Regions from separate parts of the Homo sapiens genome. Here all the other regions are linked to region 3. The links come from fine-mapping of genetic effects on gene expression. A gene starts in region 3. Each other region holds a variant in brackets. All regions are shown on one strand. Distances are between the middles of the regions. Region 1 overlaps PUM2 (pumilio RNA binding family member 2). Region 2 holds the start of SDC1 (syndecan 1). Region 3 holds the start of PUM2 (pumilio RNA binding family member 2). Region 4 overlaps PUM2 (pumilio RNA binding family member 2).

Region 1 (5,148 bases), 89 kb before region 3:
CCTTAATATTGCTTTGTTGAACTTGAGTAAGGCAGTGTTTGCAGTCTATTCATTCTATCAGTAACTATGTAGGGCAGGGGCTTTAAGGTAGAAGCTAATTAAGATAGACTGGGAAATGTTTCCAATAATAATTTTTTATTACTTCTTTGGGTTAAGTCTTACTAAAATTTCCTTGTTACTAATATGTTAACTACCTTTTAAAGAAACACTCTTTTAAAGTGAACATCTTTACAAAACCCTTCATCTTTTTTTTTTTTTTTTTTTTTTTTTGTTGAGACGGAGTCTCGCTCTGTCGCCCAGGCTGGACTGCGGACTGCAGTGGCACAATCTCGGCTCACTGCAAGCTCTGCTTCCCGGGTTCACGCCATTCTCCTGCCTCAGCCTCCCGAGTAGCTGGGACTACAGGCGCCCGCCACCGCGCCCGGCTAATTTTTTGTATTTTTAGTAGAGACGGGGTTTCACCTTGTTAGCCAGGATGGTCTCGATCTCCTGACCTCATGATCCACCCGCCTCGGCCTCCCAAAGTGCTGGGATTACAGGCGTGAGCCACCGCGCCCGGCCAAAACCCTTCATCTTTAATATATAACTTTCTTAGCCATACGTTGACCACCAAAACTCTTCACCCAGATAATCATCAAACTACATTCTGATATGATTGAGGAAAAAACTGTTAAAGTCATTAAGCTACAACACAGATGCTTATAAATTTAAAAATTGGCTAAACTGTAAAATAACACACATCTATAAATCCAAAGACTATAGTGTTATTCATTAACTACTTTACCAAAGATTGACTACCAATGCTTTATATTTTCAAATATGAATCAGGATTAATAGCAAATTTTCATTTAAAGTGGTTCATGTTAAAATTTTTTTTGTGACAAACTGCCATTTGAACCATTTTTAGCTAGGTGATTGAGTAGCATTAATTATATTCACACTGTTGTGCAACCACCATCACTATCACTATTTGTTTCCAAATCTTTTCCGTGGCCTCAAACACAAATGCTGTATCCATTAAATGGTAACTTTCTAAACCCTTCTTCCTCTAGGCCCAGTAACCCCTAATCTACTTTATGCCACTATTAGTTATTCTAGACATTTCATACTGGTAGATCACTATCAATGTTTGTCCTTTTGTGTGTGGCTTGTTTCACTTAAGTTAGTATTTTCAAGGTCCATCCATGTTGTAGTATGTATCAGAACGTCATTCCTTTTTATGGCTGAATAATATTCTATAATGTATACATATACCACTTGTATTTATCTACTCATCTGTTGACGGACACTTGGGCTGTTTCCGCCTTTTGGCTATCGTGAATAATGGTGCAATATATACTGGTGTTCAGGTTCCTGCTTTCAATTCATTTGCTTTCAATTGTACCCCTAGGAGTACAATTGCTGGATTGTGTGGTGATTCAATATTTAATTTTGAGAAACTGCCAAACTGTTTTCCATAGCAGCTACACCATTTTACATTTCCACCAGCAATTTATGAGGGCTCTAATTTCTCCATATCCTCATCCACATTTGTTATTTTCCGATTTTATGTTTTCCGATTACAGTCATCTTAGTAGGTATAAAATGGTATCTCATTGTGAGATTGATCTGCATTTCCCTGATTAGTAAGGATGTTGAGCATCTTTTCATGGCCTATGTGGCCTTTTGTATTATTTTACATAGAGAAATGTCTGTGCAAGTCCTTTGTCCATTTGTCATTTGGGTTGTCTTTTTGTTGTTGACTTTTTAGGAGTTCATTACAATATATCCTGGATAAAATGTTTACCGCATATATAATTTGTAAATATCTTATCCCTGGCTTATTATCTTTTTTTATATGAAAATGACTTTACCCAACTTTCAGAGCTTTTCTTAGCATCAAGTATACAACAGCTGGATGGGCGGATATACAAATATGCATGAATCCTTACCTCAAAAAACTTCTGTATAACATAGTTGCCAAAAACATCAGTCATTAATTGATAGGCTGCTTGCAGAATTTCATTAAATACCATCTGTCGCTCAGCTGGAGTAGCTCTCTCTAGTTTTTGCTGTATGAATCTACATAGGGAACATTTTTAATATGACAATATGTTTTTTAATACACTTGAGTATTACACCCTACCCTTCCACATATATGCACTGCAAGTTATTTCCATAAATATTACCATACTTTATATAGTAGACAGCTAACTTACAGCAAAAAGGACAAAAGTTATATAGCATTTCTTTATAACACCTTATCTAAAGATAGAGTGACAAAAAACCTGGATATAAAGATGTTTAATCTTTCTTAGGTTGGTTACATTATAATCAATAAGAAAATTACGTAAATTTTGCTGCTTATTCATTTATTTTTCATAATATACAATGTATTACTAAACATCTAACTTTTAGAACATAATAAAGGAAACCCTTAGAAGTAAAATTCATCCAACATGAATGAATTCCTAAGCAAGAAAGCCATTCTGGGTGACACAAGGCTCATTTGTTACTCTGAAGGAACTACCAACTACAGTCATGCACTGCTTAACCACATTTCAATTGACAACAAGCCACATATACAATGGTGGTCCCATAAGATTATAATGGAGATAAATTCCTATTGGGTAGGAACTGTCATAACATCATAGTGCAATACGTTACTCAGGTGTTCATGATGACATAAACCTACTGCACTGTCAGTTTATAAAAGTATAGTATGGCCGGGTGCAGTGGCTCACGCATGTAATCTCAGCACTCTGGGAGGCAGAGGTGGGTGGATCACCTGAGGTCAGGAGTTCGAGACCAGCCTGGCCAACATGGTGAAACCCTGTCTCTACCAAAAATATAAAAATTAGTTGGGCACGGTGGCAGACGCCTGTAAGCCCAGCTACTCAGGAGGCTGAGGCAGGAGAATCACTTGAACCCAGGAGGCGGAGGAGGTTGCAGTGAGCCGAGATCATGCCATTGCACTCCAGCCTAAGCGACAGAGTGAGACTCTGTCTCCAAAAAAAAAAAAAAAAAAAAAAAAAAAAGTGTAGTACATATAATTGTGTACGGTATCTGATAATAAACAACTGAGTTACTGGTTTGTGTATTTAGTATACTTTTTATTGTTATTTTAGAGTGTATTCCACTTGTT[T/TAA]AAAAAAAAAAAAAAAAGTAAAACACCCTCAGGTAGATTTCAGAAGGTATTCCAGAAAAAGCACTGTTATCATAGGAGAGGACAGCTCCATAGGTGTTGCTGCTAAAGATCTCCTAGTGGAAGAAGACATGGAGTTAGAACAAAGTGAAACTGATGATCTTTACACTGTATAGGCTAATGTGTGCATTTGTGTCTTAGTTCTTAACAAAAAGTTTAAAAAATCTGTAAACAGAAAAAGTCTCATAGAATAAGCATACAAAGGAAATATTTTCGTACAGCTGTACAATGTGTTTCTGTTCTAAGCTAAGTGTTATTACAAGTCAGTAAGTTAAAAAAAATTAAAAAGCTTAAATGTTACAGTAAGCTCAGCCTGGCAACACAGTGAGACCCTGTCTCTACAAAAAAATTTTAAGTAATTAGCCAGGTGTGATGGTGCGTGCCTGTAGTCCCAGCTATTCGGGATGCTTAGGTGGGAGGACTGCTTGAGCCCAGGAGGTTGAGGTTGCAGTGAGTGATGATCATGCTACTGTATTCCAGCCTGGATAACAGAGTAAGACCCTGTCTCAAAGTGGGGAGAAGTTACATTAAGGTTAATTTATTATTGAAGAAAAAAAGTTTTAAATAAATTCAGTGTAGTTGAAGTGTACAGTGTTTATAAAGTCTAGAGGAGTGTACAGTAATGTCCTATGCCTTCGCATATACTCACAACTCACTCACTCACCCGGAGCAACTTCCAGTCCTGCAAGCTCCATTCACATTAAGTCCCCTACACACGCATATGATTTTTTAATCTTTTATACTATAGTTTAACTGTATCTTTTCTATTGTTTATTATGCGTAGGTATACAAATACCATTGTTACAAATGCCTACAGTATTCAGTACAGTGACATGCTGTACAGATTTGCAGCCTAGGCGCAATATACAGAGTAGGTGTGTAGTAGGCTATGCCATCTAGGTTTGCATAGGTACACTCTTTAATGTTCACACAACAACGTATTTTCTAGAACGTATCCCCGTCATTAAGTGATGCATGACTGTATAGGGAGACAAAATTTGTACACCATCTAATCTAAAATGACTTAAAAACTTGAGGTTTACCTTAAAGCTATAAAGAGAGAAAATATCTTAAATTTATCAAATGTGTTACAATTCTATTTTCCTTTCTAAGCTATCTTTACAATGTTAATTCAGATGTATCTCTCATGTATTACATTCGTTTTAATGTAAAAAGGCACCAAATTTTCCTATAACAAATGTGAAATGTTTCAGTCTAAGCCAAGTCACACTGAATACCAACCTATAATGCAACACAAAGGCATTTAACATTGTTTGCTATATTTTTTAAACACACCATGAGGGTCACTTAAGCCCACAAATGTAATACAGAGCCGATGTAATCAAAATAATCCAATGGAGGGGGCCCTGCTATATTCTCATCATAACAATATTCTCACTGTAAAAAACTGGAAAACTATAAAAAATTAAAACCCGTATTTTTATAATTTATCCTAACATGAAAGAAAAAACATATAATCCATATTGAATTTTAGCTCTTAAAAGCTTCCAACTTTAATGCAGACTAAAGTCCAGAAAAATTTAAGCTTTTATAAGGCAGCAATTTTCAAAGCAAAAATGAAGTGAGAAATATCATAATCACCTACCTAGAACCATGCTGGTCTTGAGAAAACTCAACTATATGTCCAATCAAGTCTCTAAGCTGAAGGTTTGGGAAGCGGTTGTTTCTGAAATCTTCCAATAATCTACTGCGGCCAGAAGGCATAATATCAGACCTATTATACCGAAGCCGGGAAGGAGGAAAGAGCTGGCTGCTGGAGCTAAATAGACTGGAAGTGCTTGAAGCACTTCGATATTTTGCTTCTGCTCCAGGTGCTGCAGAGATATATCGACCACTACCATTTGTCAGTCCTCCTACAACAAAGCAGCTATGGTCAGCAAGTATTTTTGACAAAGTTATTCCTCAAATAAAATTTACTTTAGCTACAAATTCAGTCAATAAAGAAA
Region 2 (5,131 bases), 130 kb before region 3:
ACAGAGAGAAAGAGAGAGAGAAACCTTTTTAGACAAACCTGTTTTAGTCTCTTGGGAGTGGTTTTGAGCAACCTCCTCTCCTAGCAGCCTCCCCTCACCCATTCAGTCACTCCTTGCTTCCCTGGTCCCCAGGGGGTTTCTGACCTGCTTCCCACTGGGGCCAGAGTGAACTTTCAGAGAGGGTCAGATCTCTGCCACTTGCAAATACCTTCTCCCATCTTAAAGCAAATCCCAGCTGCCTGATTTCTTTTAGGAAAGGGGTATCAGAGCTTTGGGAAGGCAGTGCATGCCCCCACCTTTAACCTAACATGGACATTCACTGTAAGAGGAAGAGGGCAGAACTGGGAAAGAGAAAACAAACTAATCTTTGTAAGATCAGAAAAAGCAAAAAGAACACCTAAGCTTCAAGCCAGAGTCTGACCCCAAAGCTCAGGTGGGGCTTTCAGGCTCAGCTCAAGCACCTCCTCCAGGAAGCCTTCCCTCCCTGCAGCTCCAGGGAGTCTCCCTCCTTTCCCCTTTTGAGACTCTCCTGCCTCCTGGGCCCTATGTCCAAGTTTCTGGGCAAGAAATAATGCCTCACACTGCAGCATCTGCCCCAGCCCACAGAAAACTCCAGGAAAGGCAGTTCACGGGGAAGCCCAAACTCCACCTGCCTCCCCAGCATTAACGGGTGCGGTGGGATCCCAGGGCTCTGGAATGTCTGCTTTACCCCAGGCAGGCAAGGGAACCAGCAGCCCTCCTAAATCCAGCCGGAAATAGGTGGAGGACCCAACTTCAGCCGCCCCTGCTGAGGCCCCATCATGTGCGAGAATGGGGCAGTGAGGTGATGCCCAGCGGTCCAGGGAGGTAAGGCACCCAGCTCCATTCTCTTCTCCAAACTCGGAGCGAAGACTCCAAGCACAGTCTCAGTTCCACAGAAACCACCACCCTAGAGAGCAGCTTCTTGGACCTGAAAGCCAGGAGTGCATGAGACCCAGCTCGGAAATCATGGCCCTCCCCGTGCTCCCAGATACCCCTCACAGTCCAGCCCATTCACAGTTCAATAGGCACAGGGACCTCTCCTGGACCGGAAAATGTCTGGAAGCACGAGTCACCTGGGAAGCAGGGAGGGCGCTTTACACATCGGTCTCAGAAACGACTGTCCCTACCTCATCTCCCATGAGACAGACTCTGTAAAGAAAAAAAAAACCAAAGCGCTCAATAACTGGCAGCTACTACACGAGGCAACGCTTACGGAGGGTCAGCGCTGCTGAGACTTGTCCAGATGCCACATTAGCAGTGGAGAACCCGAGTGCCCACCCCGCCCCCGCCCCTTCCCTGCCCACGTGCCTCCCTTTGCCAGAGCTGGGGAAGTCGAACTGTCCAGATGTAGTGGCGAGACACCGCCACTTCCGGAAGGGGAAGCGCCCCTGGCTCCGCACCTCCCCTCTGCATCCCTGGGGATGGCCGAGCCGGCCCGCAGGAGGGACCCCGGGACGCCAGCACCGGGCGCGGGGGCTGGGGAGGCGAACTCGGGCGGCAGACTCGGGCACCGGGCGGCCCGCGCTGACACCTGGCTGCGGCCCAGGTCCCAGCCCCCGTCAAGGCCGGCGTTACGGGGCTGTTCCCAGGAAAGGGTTACAGGGGCCGAGAACAAAGCGCCCCCATTGGGGAAGGCGGGCTAGCGGCCGGTGGCCGGGGCGGGAGAGCCACTTTCTGGGGACCCTCAGGCTGCTCTTTGTCGGCCACGTCCCTCTTTAGTGGAGCGTCAGCCCCGCTGAAGGTGGATGCTGCATCCCACCCAAAGGCCTCTTACAGCCCCGAGCTCCACATCTGCCCCTCTTTTCTCCCAGCTGCACTGGGCGGGCCAAGGGACCCGCCTTCCCTCCGCGCGGCTTCAGCACAAAGCCGAGCC[G/T]GGGAGCGGGAGGCCATTCCCGGGTCCCCTCGCGTGGAAGGCGCCTGCGCCTCGGCCGTGCCCGGCACGGGAACGCGCCCTCCGGGGCCAGCTCAACTTCAGCAGCCCAGAAGTTGGGCTCCTCCGGGTCTCCAGCGTTCCGAGGCCAACTTCCCGGAACCTCCCGCTGCCGGGCCGGCTCAGCTCACCTCGAGCCGCCCACGGCAAGCCCGAGGGCCCTGCAGACGCTCGCCCGCGCCCCCCACGCAGCCCTGGCCCGGCTCCCCGGGCCAACGCGGCCGCCTCCCGCTCCCGCGCCGGCCGCGCTGCGCCCAAACTTGCCCTGGCGCAAGGGGCGGGGCGCCCGGGCTCGGCGGCGCTGGGGCGCAAGCCCGCGGGTCTGGTTTGAATTAGGGTCTGCAGGGGGGGCGTTGTGGCCGCGGTCACTGCATCCCCCCGGGTCACCGACGGGGGCCCGGCCGCCGCGGTGGCCGGGGCGAGGAGGGTGGGAACGGGCGACCCCGGGCGCCGCTGTGGGCTGGCGGGCTCCGACAGATGTGGAGACGTTTTACATAATTGAGCGCGGGGCCCCGGCCCCCCACCCTCCCCAGCGCGGGACCGGTGCGGCACCCACCGACAGCGGAGGAAATTGGGGCTGGAGCCCTGGTCTCGGGGCTCACCGTCCCGGGACCCGCTGGGCTAGCGCGGGAAGAAGGGAAGTCTTCGCTCCCCCTCCCCCTCCACGTGCACCCGCCGGCATCCGCGGGTGACCAGTCCCGGCTTCCCGCCGCCTCCCCGCCTGGCCGCCGGCCGCACTCACCGGCAGGGCCGGCTGCAGGCTCAGCGCCAGCGCGCACAGCCAGAGCCAGAGCGCCGCGCGCCTCATGCTGCCCGGACCGGCGGCGGGAGAGCGGCAGGCTGCGCGGGTCGCGGCTGCGGGCCGGCTTCGCGGGTTCCGCTGCTCGATGCTCTCTTGGGCGCCTGCCCAGCGCGCCGCTGTCCCAGGCGAGGGCTGCAGGGTCCGCCGGCTGGAGTCCGCTCTCTACTGCCGGATTCCTCTCCGCTCGGCTCGGATTCGGCCCGCACCTCTCCCGCCGAGCTCCGCCTTATAATAAACCCACAGGCCCTTCCTTAGCCGTTGCAAAAACTGGCCCCCCACCCCCAGCTCCGCCAGGTCTCCCGGCCAGCCCCAGTCCACACCCCCCAGGACCCCGCCCCCCAGCCACCCCTCCCGGCCCCTTCGGAACGCCCCACCCCCGGCCCGCTCCTAAGGTTCTTGCCTGCTTGGCTCCCGCTCCTCCGGTGGCCGAACGTCGCTTTCGGGAGCTGTGGTCCCCGCAAGCCGCGGTTCCCGGCCTTTCAGCTCGGCTGCTCCCTGGGTGGTGGGGCCGAGGCGCACCCCCTTCTGCCCGGGCCCGGAGTGCGGAGGCGCAGCCCGGGAGAGGGGCTGAAGGGGGGCAGGCAGTCCTCGGGCGCGAGTGTGCAGCGCCCTCTGGGCGTGGACGCGGAGCGCGCTCCAGGTGCGCAGGACTCCTAGCTCTCTTGGGGAACGCTTTCTGGGGCAGGGCGGGGACCCGGGGGCGATGGGGCCTTCAACCGACGGGCAAACACACACAGACACACCCCGGCTGTCCTCCAGCTGCGATGCGGCTCGCTGCGCCCCGCCGGCCCAGATTCTCCCGTACGCTCGCGTTCTTCCTGCACTCCACAAAGTGCTGGAGACTTGGGGCCTTAGTTTAAACAGCTGCACCCGCACGGAAGGGCTGCAAGAAAAAGGGGGACGGGGGCGGAGTTCGCAGCGTTTTTCTGTGGAAGACAACGCCCTCTCTCTTCATCTGAGCTAAAAGGAAAAATAAGTAACTTCTTTGTTCCCCGGTGACCTCGGGCACGCGGATCTGAGGAGCACCGTGCAGTTGCTGCTCCTTCGAGATCCCCTGCGAGGCCCTGGGCCTCAGTTCAAAAAGCTGTGGAAGGCCTGCGGGTGTAGGGGAAACGGCCGAGAGAGCAAAGGGGAAGAACCGGACGGGCCCTGCCCACATCTGGCAGGCAGGAGAGATGGTGCCAAACGACCTTCGCACCTGGGCCCTGAGACCAAAGATGGCGTCGTCCTCCCCTGTCTTCCCTAGGCGGAAGGCAAGAACTTGGGTCGGCCTGAGCTGGGGACCAAGAAAATATCGGGAAGTGTCCAGTGTTCCTCTTTAAAAGAATTAAACCTTCCTGGGCCACGCAGGGACTGACCGTGGGACCCTGGACTCTCCTCCACCTTCCACCGTGGAGCAGGCTCTGGAGCCGAGCAGCCTCCTGCGTCCCCATCTCATCCCCCCACTCCTCCTCACAGCACTAAAAGATGATGGCCTGCTTGTACCCCTGCTCCTGAGCACCTGTTTGACCTCAAAGAGCTCTCGCTTTTGGGGTGTCCGTCTCCCCAAGTCTGTCTAGGGGGCAGGAAGACCTTCATCAGGGTTCTTGGGGGCCGATGTGGGCTCGCTGAGTGCCTGAGTGATGGATGGTCTCACAGCACGGCACCACGGAGGTCCAGCCGAGCTCGAGGAGTCCCTGTGGATTAAAAATGCCCTTTTCGAAGGTTCTACCTCTACCAGAGGGTGGCTCCACAGATCCCTTCAACCCAGTATGGTGGAAAAATAGGAATTTTGGAATCTTACCTTTCTCTACTGCTCACAACAGAGGAAACTGGGGTCAGGGAGGATTTGATGGAGTCTTTTCATTTTTTAAAAGTCACTCACGGCCAAGCGCGATGGCTCACGCCTGTAACCCCAGCACTTTGGGAGGCCGAGGCGGGCAGATCACCTGAGGTCAGGAGTTCTCGACCAGCCTGGCTAACACGGTGAATCCCCATCTCTACTAAAAATACAAAAATTAGCCGGATATGGTGGCAGGTGCCTATAATCCCAGCTACTCGGGAGGCTGAGGCAGGGAGAATCGCCTCGACCTCTCGGGTTCAAACAATTCTCCCGCCTCAGCCTCCTAAATAGCTGGGATTACAGTCGCACGCCACCACAGGCCGGCTAATTTTTTATTTATTTATTTATTTTGTATTTTTAGTAGAGACAAGGTTTCACCATATTGGTCAGGCTGGTCTTGAACTCCCAACCTCAGGTGATACACCCGTCTCGGCCTCCCAAAGCGCTGGGATTACAGGCGTGAGCCACCGTGCCTGGCCCTTATACTTGTCTTCTTGAGTGCATGTGTGAGGCTTTCTCTAGAAGTAGAGCTCTGGATTATAGGTATAAACATCTT
Region 3 (5,148 bases):
AGTGCTTTCTGCAGGGAGAAGACTCCCAGAGAGAAAGCGAGGAAGGGGCTCTGCCATATTTCATCAGCGTTCCCTCTTACAAACTCATCAAAGCGAAGTGAGGAGGCAGGACAAAACGAACAAGTCAGACTATTTTAATGCATTTCCTAAAAACAGCAAGGGTCTGGCACCGGGGCTCATGCTTTTAATACCAACATTTTGGGAGGCCAAGGCGGGAGAACTGCTTGAGCCCAGGAGTTTGAGACCAGCCTGGGCAACACAGCAAGACCTCACCTATATTAAAAATTAATAATAATAATAATAATAATAAAGAAAAAAAGCAAGAAATCTTAATATGCCACAGACCAATTTACCTGGCTATAAGTGTAATTTTTATCTTAATCACACCTGTTAGTAAAATGGTCTCAAGCTGTGATTGCAGCCATGTAGACAAAGCCATGTGAGACTCAAATATTCGGATATTTTAAATATCTGTAAATTTTAAGAATATGAAAAAATACAAGTATTTCCATATCCTGGAAACCCAACAAGGTATTTAAGTTAGGACGTATGTAGAACTTGAGTTTAGGAGACAGGAATCAACCTCCACTTAAAACTATGCAGATCATGTTAGGGTCTATAAAAAGGAGACAGCTTGGTCACTGAGAAAATTGGCTGTGGATTTCACACCTGGCCCAAATCTCTGGTCATAATTACTTTTGTTAACTAAGATAAGTACCTACTCCGGAAGGCAAATTATCTTTCCACACCAGAAAGGTTTATAAACAAGCCGGGTGTGGTGGCTCACGCCTGTAATCCCGGCACTCTGGGAGGGCGAGGCGGGAGGATCGCTTGAGATCGGAGTTCAGCCCAGGAAACACAGTGAGACCCTGTCTCTACAAAAAATGCAAAAATTAGCCGGGCGTGGTGGCGTGCGCCTGTACCCCCAGCTACAGTTACTCGGAAGGCTCAGGTGGAAGAACAGTTGCAGCCCGGGACGCGGAGGCTGCAGTGAGCCCAGATCTCACCACCTGCACTGCAGTCTGGGCGACAGAACCAGACCCTGTCTCAAACAAGAAAAAAAGATTCATAAACAAGTATGGAATGCTTGAGAGAAACAAAATCCAAGTATTATTTGGTAATTTATATACAGTATTTGTAATGCCTGAGAATTTATTCTAAAGTGACAGCTTTGTAAGAGCAAAGTAAATGTCAGTAATTAATTTAGGCTCTTTTAAAAAGTTGAAATCTTGCTAAATGCTGAAACACCTAAGAGAACTTTGGACTCAAATTAAGGAAAGCATGTGTTAAACACAGCTTAAATTGCTGGAAAATGCGTAAGTTACTGGCAATTATAACTCAAAATAGCTAGACCTGTAAACAAAATTTAAAAACTGGACTTAAATCCTCAAGAACCAGGTTTCTGAAATAAAATTTTATTTTTAAGATTATCGTAAACCTTTTCTGCATACAAAAACTGCCCTCATGCACACCAAGAAAATTCTACACAATGCAATTTCACCAAAAATCGGAATTTTAAAGAAATTCTTGCAGCACGGAAAATGCCATCATTTTTATTCATAATGATTGAGCAAATGAAGTAAATCATTGTTTAAAAGGAGGCTAGGAAGAGAAACAAGTTGAAAATACTCATTTTTGTTTTTTTTTTTTTATTTACAGGATTCCTTAAGTCATCTTCCAATACTCCAGGTCACATGGTGAAGAGTCACCTGTTAAACACGAAATCTAACCATTAAACAAGCTTTTAAAATCCTTCGGTAACTCCCTTTATTAAAATTGTTTTCTTGACATACAGTACCTTTACAGGTATTACATTTCTCTTCACCGTTTACAAGCATTTTTCTCATGTTTTCCTTCACCAAAACATCTGCCCCGTTTTCTCAACAAGTAAAAATCTCAAAGTACTAAGTCCTAACATGATGTCTTATTGCACCTAATATGCTGGCAATACATTCCTCTCTTCAAAAGTTTACGTATGTTAGAATAAAAAGCTAAGTTAAGTAGGTTTTCTCTGGCTGTGTTTTCAGAAACAACACTAACTTTTACACGTGTTTGGGCATGAAACTTTAAACATTTTCCCCAAAACCTGACCCAATTCAGATACAAAACTACTGCTCAAATAGTAGAAGCCGCTAATCTTGTCTTTGGTTTTAATTTACATATTTTTCTGAATATCGAAATCCGTTCCTATAACCTAAACAAGGCGAATCCAAGTCACTGCTTCATACCCACATCTGTCCACGGCAAGCTTTTCCCGGACACACTCGGGCCTTTGAAAATGCCCACACTTGTTTTCATAAACCCACTCCTTCCTCTTCACCCACTTGCAATCCGCATGCTTCTCTGGGGCCACCCGGCCTCTCCCCTCTTTCCGAACCCTAGGGCCGACAGCTCGGTCTCTAACCTCCAGCGCGCCGAATCGGAGGGAGAACCGGGTCGGCGCCCCACGCCCCCGAGGCGGCGGCCCCGCAGAGGGAAGGAAGCGGGAAAGCGGCCGGCGCGGCGCCCCCTCCCCCGCACGCGCACACCCCCTTCCGGCACCCCTCCCCCTGCATTGTGCGAGCGGGCCCCAGGCCGCACCGGCCCGGGCACTCAGCAGGCCCTATCCGCCCTCCCGCTGGCGATCGGCTCCCGCCGAGGCCGCCGCACAAAGCCTGGGGAGCCATCCTCGACGGCGCCAAAGGACCGGAGAAAGAGCGAACGCGGACTGACTTACAGGGCTGCTGCGGCCGCGCTGCCTCAGCCGGGGACACCGACCGTTGGGCACACGGCGGCGTCGCTCTTGGCGGTCCTCCCCCTCCTCCGCCTTCGGTGGCGGCAATGTCTTCTTTCTCCACCTACCACCCTCCCCCCCCACCCCACCTCCTCCTTCTCCTCCCCCTCCTCCTCCGAACCACCGAAGTACCGAGGGTGAGACACAGAGACTCACAACAACATGGCTGCCACCGCCGCCTGCCCTCCCCTCCCCCCCGCCCACCGGGCGCGCGCAGTGCACCCCGGGAGAAAGGGGAGGGGGAGCGCTCACCAAGGCGCGGCTCCTTTTAATGCCTTGCGTCCCTGCTCCCGCGCTGCCGCCGCGCGGGCCGGGGGCGCCCTGCGCGTGCGCACGTTCTCCGCGCTCTCACGTGTTTGGCCGCCTCTCCGGCGTGCCCTCCCCCGCCCTCACCTTGCGGGCTCGCGCTTCCCTCCTGGGCTCCGCCGCGGCGGGCTCGGAGAGCGCAGGCGTACTGTTGCCAAACGCTGTGTTCGACTGTCTTCCCGCGTGGGGCCTCGCCTTCTGAATCTTCTTACCCTCGGCTTCCTACCCGGTTGCTCACTGTTTTCCCCCAACTGGGTGTGCGGGTGTCTGCGCCCGCGCCGCCCACCGTGGGGTACTCCTGGCATTTCGCTTCCAGAGTGCTGGCGCCCACAAGAGCCGGACGTTAATTCAGGCCTTTAACTTTCACTCTGTACCTCCCCACAACCAGACGAGGGAGATGCATCTGGGGGTGGAAGATTGTACCCTGCGAGAGGGCTGTCACTCTTCTCGTGGTTGCACCCCAGGCAGGTGGAGCCAGCTCTCAGCAAATTGTCGGCCCCCAGTGCTTGGTCCCGGTGCACACAAAGGAAACTCAGGTCGTTCTCCAGCTGGGCCAGTGATTCTCACTCGTTGGCTGTTTCTTTTTCTCGCGTACTAAGCGCTCTCTCCTTCCCCGTTTACAGGCTAGTTGGAAACTCCAAATCTGCCTTGCTGTCCTGGACCCCCATGCAAAGCAGTGGTGATTCCAGGATTCTAACCTAACCGGCTCCAGGTCACACAGCTGTAACAGGCACCGTGTCCGATTTGTTCTTGATGGTTTGTTTGCACAGCTCCTGGCTCTCCTGACATGCTGCACTTCGTAAATATTCAGGGCCTCCCGTATAGTTTGCTTAATATATGTCTTCCCTAGGCGACTGTGAGCTCCACGAGGGCAAGGACCTTGTGTTTTGTTTCACACTGTGCCCGCAAGTGCCTGTTGAATACACATGGGCTCTTCGGTTTTTAACTATTACTGAAAAATGTCTGACATTGAAATCCATCCCAAGCCCCTACCTTAGGCTCATATTTCAGGCTTCTAGATATTTTCACTTGAATTTTCTTGTCACCAAGCATGTTAAAAACTGAAGTCACACCCATCCCCTACCCCCCACTCTTGTACTGTCTCTGTAATTGGCAGTGTCACCACCTATTCATTCCCCAAATTACACCTCTGAGAACCATCCTTGTCTCTTCCTCTTACCCCGACTCCAAATATAAATAACTTACCAAGCCTCGCAGATTTTTACTTCCCAAGTAATTCTGGAGACAGTCTTCCTCTGCCTCCTCACTAATGCTAGCCTTGCTTCCCAGGTCTGGATTTCTGTAGCTGGCTCTTAATCAGCTTTCCTGTCTCCAGTCTCACTCCCTCCAATCAGTTCTGCTCACTGCTATCTAAAATGCAAATCCAATTCCTGGCGCTCAGGCCTCTGCTTCAACCATCTCATTGCTCCCCATCACCCACGACAGCATTTCCCTAGTGTGCTGTGTTCAGTGTTAATAGATGTTCCTTTAAGAAATGTCTCACGATCAAGTAAGAATGGGAGATGCTGGGGTGTACACATTTTGCCTTCCTTCTCCTTTCCCCTCCGTTGAGCTGATAATAGCAGAAGAGTCTTTATATACAGTTGCTTAGTGTGGGTGAAACTAGATAAATCCATCACAGGCCCTCCCTTAGAATATGGAATTGGGACTAAGAGACCCCAACCTCGAAAGTCTCTTGGACCTGGGATCCCTTGGGCAGACTGGTTCCATCCTGTAAGACAGGGAACCTGTAGAGAAAGAGTGGAGTTGAGAGAGAAAAGGAGAGTGCTGACAATGTCTCTCTTTCACATGTTTCTGTGCCTGGCTGGCTGCCTCTACCCTTGGAGTCTGAGCCGCATTCCTGGATCCTTATGGTAAATTCTGCTTCTTTGCTTAAGCTAGATAAAGTGAATTTCTGTTACAACCAAGAGTCCTACTAAAAGCCACGTGTAAGCTATAGTTATTTGTTTGGTACTAACAACATGCAAGCACCAAAGCACTTTCCATACATTGTCTCATTTAATGTTCCAGATATCCCCATGAACAAGGCCAGCTTCAGCACAGGCACG
Region 4 (5,148 bases), 100 kb before region 3:
TGCCATGGCGCTTCAGGTCTATTCTCTTTAATCCTTACAATCTCAGCAGGTCACCATTTCCTTGACTTACACAAAGAAACTAAGGCTTAAAAGATGAAACCACTTACCTACTAGATATGAAGCTAGTGTTTGGCACCTGGGCAGTCTAATTCTAGAGCCCAAACTCTGAATCATTACTTTCTGATGCCCAAGAAAGTTTGAATCAATCTTTCTGTTGATCTTTCTGTTGTTGGGTTTTCCGGTAAAAACTGGAAAACCTGCTAGACAAATTCTAAAAGAGCACTGACATTTGAATACATTTTAATCCAGCCAATTGCTTTCCCTTAAACTACCAAATACAAGACTATTTCACCTGGTTTTAATTCTTGGTAAATATATTTTTTAAAAGTTCTATGGCACTTCCGCCTCCGCTGAGGTGGTGCCAGAGCCACAGTCATGAGTTGCTTCAAGTTTATCGGTAAAAGGAGCGTTTTCCCAACTCACTGGGTCGTTCTGATCGGTCCAGGGTGTTGCTCACCAAGGCCACAGGGCCCAGAACTTGAGCTCTCCGGCTTTGTAAGGGTTGAAAGGGCCACTCAGTGGAAGAGGGTGCAGGAAGGTTTCTGGGTGCTGGTAATGTTCTGGTTCTTGATCTAAATCCTGGATTCATGAGTATTTATTTGTGAAAATTAACAAGCCGTACAGTTATGATTTTTTTGTGCTCTTTCAAAAAAAAAAGTTCTGTGTATGGAACATAGCAGAAACTGGAGAAACTGCCTACAGGAGCTATCTTGGGCTGTCTTGTCCTATATTGGCTTAAGAGTTGGCTGGGCCTGGTGGCTCATGCCTGTAATCCCAGCACTTTGGGAGGCCGAGGCAGGTGGATTGCTTGAGCAGGAGTTTGAGATCAGCCTGGACGACATACAGACCCCATCTCTACAAAAAATACAAAAAGTAGCCAGGCATTGTAGCATGAGCCTGTGGTCCCAGCTACTTCGGAGGCTGAGATGGGAAACTTGCTTGAACCTGGGAGGTTGAGGCTGCAGTGAGCAGTGATGGCACCACTGCACTCCAGCCTAGGTGAGAGCCAGATCTTGTCAAAAAATAAAAATAAAAACAACAAACATACTCCTCAGCCACAAGGTTCTGTGGGAAAGTCAGGATAGGACCCTACAAGTAACAAAGGTCCAGTCCAGTCCTGGCCCCACTCCCCTCTGCAGCGCAGTGCTTAGAACAGCCTCCTAGGGGTGAGCCCTGAAGCCTCAGCACTCTTTTCCTGCTCAGCTCCCTGTTCATAGACACATTTTCTAATTTCTACCAGGCAATTCTACCAGGCATGTTAAGCTAGGTACTTTTAAGTGAGGTAGGGAAGGTGGACAATGAATATGGCTCCTTTAGGGGTTTCTTTGTCCTCTGCTGCTTTAAAATCTTCCAGAGAAAGTGTCATCGAGGGCATCTAGTCCCAGGTGAATTTAGGAAACTGCTTTCCTTAGGTTGGTAAGCCAGGGTGCGAAGATGTGGTATTTCCTTGTTAAGACCTTTTAAATTTCAATACAATGTGAGGTAGTATGTCAATAATCCAAGAGGGTTGCTCAGAAGAGACCCAAACCAAGACAAAATTAAATTTCAGGAAATACAATGTGTATGGTGACATTTCTTTTTCCCACTTAGCTTTATGCAGGTTTCCATTTTGGAGTCTATCAAATTGTTCTGGCTTTTTTTCTTTTTATAGCTGTAGAAAGAATGGGAAAAACAGAAATGGTATTAACAAGCGATTCATTAAGAATTAGGTTCCAGGCCGGGTGTGGTGGTTCACGCCAATAATCCCAGCACTTTCGGAGGCCACGGCGGGCAGATTACGAGGTCAGGAGCTCGAGACCAGCCTGGCCAACATGGTGAAACTCCATCTCTACTAAAAATACAAGTTATCAGCCGGGTGTGGTGGTGTGCACCTGTAGTCCCAGCCACTCGGGAGGCTGAGGCAGAAGAATCACTTGAAGCTGGGAGGTAGAGGTTGCAGTGAGCTGAGATGGCGCCATCACACTCCAGCCTGGGCGACAATGCGAGACTCTGTGTCAAAAAAAAAAAAAAAAAAAAAAAATTAGGTTCTTGGCCAGGCATAGTGGCTCATGCCTGTAATCCCAGCACTTTGGGAGGCCAAAGTAAAAAGACCACTTGAGGCCAGAAGTTCAAGACCAACCTGACCAACAAGGCAAGAATCCATCTCTTAAAAAGAAAAAAATAGGTTCTAACTATCTTTTTGTATATTCTCCACTGTTAAAACTAATGAGTTAAGTAGTATTATCCCTTGATACAGACTAAGGGCTCAAGGTTTAGAAAAGTTCACAAGGTGTGTAAATAAGGTAAACTTTAAATCCACATCTGAACTTAAATTGTTTACCTTTAGACAACACTGCCTCCTCGAGTTCATGTGAAAACGGGCTAAAAGTTTTATCCTATGAAGTATGCAGTTATAGGTCCTAAATACTAATCAAAGCATGGAATTAATACCATCAGAGGAATCAGTGGCTCCAGAACAGCACCCATGTGTTAAAAATGTTTGTTTTCTTTACGTCGGAGTAAACCTGAATGGGCAATCAATCTTAAGTTATAACTGAGGTACAGAGGGGTATTTTATCTAGAGAAAAACACAAGACCAGGTTTATTTCATACAATGTTATTCACACATTTTTCATTTTCTAATTTATACATAATATACAAAGA[A/G]GTGAAGTTAACATTATTTCATATGAACCAATAAGAGCCAGGACTTAGACAAACTGGTCCAGAAACAATCCCTATCAAAAGGAGACACTCAAGAGTAAAGCCTAGGTAGTTTTGCCCAATTGTTTTATTCTGAAATGTGATTTTCAGATTTTACCAAAATTTCATGCCAACTTACTAAAAGGTAAAAATTGGGGTGGGCACCCAAAATGGCAGACTGTAAAATTTCTACAAGAACAGGTACTTTTGTAGAGCAGGCCTGAAAGTATTGGGAAGATTGGGTTGTCAGCACTGGGACAAATGGGAATGAGTATCAGGACCCCAAGAAGAGGGTTTAGTTTCTCAATGTAGTATTCTCTACTTGTCATTTTCTAAAATTGCAGAGATAATGCCTGTGCCAACAGAGGGCAAGGATGAAGGAAGACTAGGAATTCAACTGTACAAAGACAGGAAAGCCATTACCAATCTCCAACATGACAGCTTTGATCCTGAAACCATGGGCTGATACTGAGAACAAAAGTTCGATACGGGCCGAAATACTCTGAGGTTGGTAAAGTAGGAAAAAGTGAGACAGCGGCTTTGTGTGGGTTTTAAAAAAATGAAACAAACACAAGGCGTTGCTGCAGTGACTGGGACATGCTGATGACCCAGAGTGACTATGAGAAGGAACGGTGACAAGTGTTTGGATTTAATGGTCTCACCAAGGAATGTTGGGTTAGAAAAGTAAAATAACTCAACACCAAACATGAAAAAGTATGCCTGGCATCCCCAAACTTTATGCCATTATTTTTAGGTTCATAATATGAACAACTAAGTGATAAAACCTTTAGATTCCATATTGTGCTCAGAAGATTGCGTTTCTTCTGCAGATCTCTAGTAAAAAAAGATCTCTTCCATATTCAGCTGACAGAATAGCATGTTCATTTTAGTTTTCAGCACTGAACATAAGTGGGTCAACATAAATGTTTATACAAAATACTGACTTCAACAAAATACAAAGCACTTTCTTTATCTTTCAGAAACTGAATATACACAGCAAGTTTTTTTCCAAAATATTTTCATAGGCAAAGGATTAAAAACGATTTTAATTATACACATATGGTCACAATTTTGCCTTAAAAAGATTGTTGGGAAATGTACATAAGGCCGCTTGTAAATGTACATCGTGTTACTGTTATGTCTTATGTCCAGAGGAAAAAATGTTATCATACAGATTTGCTCTTACTTGGGAGTAGGCTATTCAAAAATACAGTACTCTTCTGTACAAAGAAAAAAGTCACATCACATTTAATAAGATGAAAAAAGCATTGGCCTCCATGGTAACCAAATATCTCAGTCCAATACTTTCTATTATGCACAATACCCTGACTTCAATTGAAAGTGATCCAAATTCTAGCAGGTCCATATTAACAGTCAACAACTATGTTATAAAACAAAATGATCTCACAATAATAAAAAGAAAGCTGGTTCATACTTCTGAAACCATATAAAGATAAAAAATTTTTAAAAAATCACTCTCGATTTGGAGAAATAAATTTACATTATACAACACTATATTGCCAGGTCAAAGAGGGCAGGGACGTAAATGTACACTAAAATGCAAATGTATCCCAAAGAGATAAAACAAATTCCATTTACAGCATGAAGGTTTACAAATGTACACCTGTACAACCAAGGAAAGCATCACTACTAAATTAGCAAGGCTTTTATAATAAACATTGAAACAAGATTTCCTTTCAAAGTGTAAACTTACATCTATTACTACACACACAATGCATATATTTATAGAAAGCAAAAAGAGCTATCTGAATATGTAATCATGCTTAAATGCTGAGCTATCAAATTCACTTTTCAGTGGCCCCTTTTCATCTCTATCTGGTTCCTACTTTCTGCCTCTATGAAAAAGCAAAATAAAGCTCAACACTTCCTCAACATGTCTGTAATTCTATAAGCAAAACAAAATACAAATTTCCACTCTTTCTCATTGCAAACCAAACTGAAAAGTTAATAAGTGACTTAACTTTTCATTTAGTGCACTTAATTGGAAGTGTCACCATGATTTTGTATTTAACTCTTACAACAATTACATATGTAAGTATATACAATATTTCTGTACATTGCCAGAGACATTTTAGGGCAGTAATTGTATTAAAACCACATCTACTGTAAATAATGTTAGGTTCTTTTCATCTCAAACCACTTTATTCTTGTCTACTTACTCGTTATTTGCATGATAGTTTGTGAATTATCAAAATACAACTTAACTCTTTTTAAAATATTAATAATATTTATGCAGTTGATTGTTAATCTGTTATAAAAGGTTTCACGCAAAGGAAAAAAATAAGGACTATAATTCTATATACATCTCTATAAACCTGTTGTGCTATGGGGTTGTAGACCTACCAGACTGTGAGCCAGTTTATTAAAAGAATACTGTACTTTTTCCTT

The links.
Region 1: its variant is fine-mapped to the expression of PUM2 in whole blood (INTERVAL, PIP above 0.99).
Region 2: its variant is fine-mapped to the expression of PUM2 in whole blood (TOPMed, PIP above 0.99).
Region 4: its variant is fine-mapped to the expression of PUM2 in whole blood (TOPMed, PIP 0.92).

Annotation. Positions count from the first base shown.
Region 1 is chr2:20,258,406-20,263,553 of GRCh38, forward strand. PUM2 (pumilio RNA binding family member 2) reads right to left here. Exons shown (of 21, transcript NM_015317.5): 14 at 4,788-5,055; 15 at 1,932-2,061. Among named protein-coding and RNA genes, the nearest start is that of SDC1, 36 kb to the left of the region's middle. The variant T/TAA (reference allele first, on the strand shown) is at 3,125.
Region 2 is chr2:20,222,109-20,227,239 of GRCh38, forward strand. SDC1 (syndecan 1) reads right to left here and starts at 3,022. Exons shown (of 5, transcript NM_002997.5): 1 at 2,694-3,022. The coding sequence starts at 2,759. RefSeq lists enhancers at 216-723, 724-1,230, 2,990-3,669, 3,670-4,349 and silencers at 1,389-1,588, 1,999-2,458, 2,479-2,538, 2,579-2,998, 3,059-3,438. The variant G/T (reference allele first, on the strand shown) is at 1,895.
Region 3 is chr2:20,347,881-20,353,028 of GRCh38, forward strand. PUM2 (pumilio RNA binding family member 2) reads right to left here and starts at 2,964. Exons shown (of 21, transcript NM_015317.5): 1 at 2,717-2,964. RefSeq lists a silencer at 2,347-3,236 and enhancers at 2,432-3,061, 3,062-3,693, 3,397-3,486, 3,694-4,323.
Region 4 is chr2:20,246,097-20,251,244 of GRCh38, forward strand. It overlaps PUM2 (pumilio RNA binding family member 2), which reads right to left. Exons shown (of 21, transcript NM_015317.5): 21 at 2,641-5,148. It also overlaps the pseudogene RNU7-113P. Among named protein-coding and RNA genes, the nearest start is that of SDC1, 24 kb to the left of the region's middle. The variant A/G (reference allele first, on the strand shown) is at 2,704.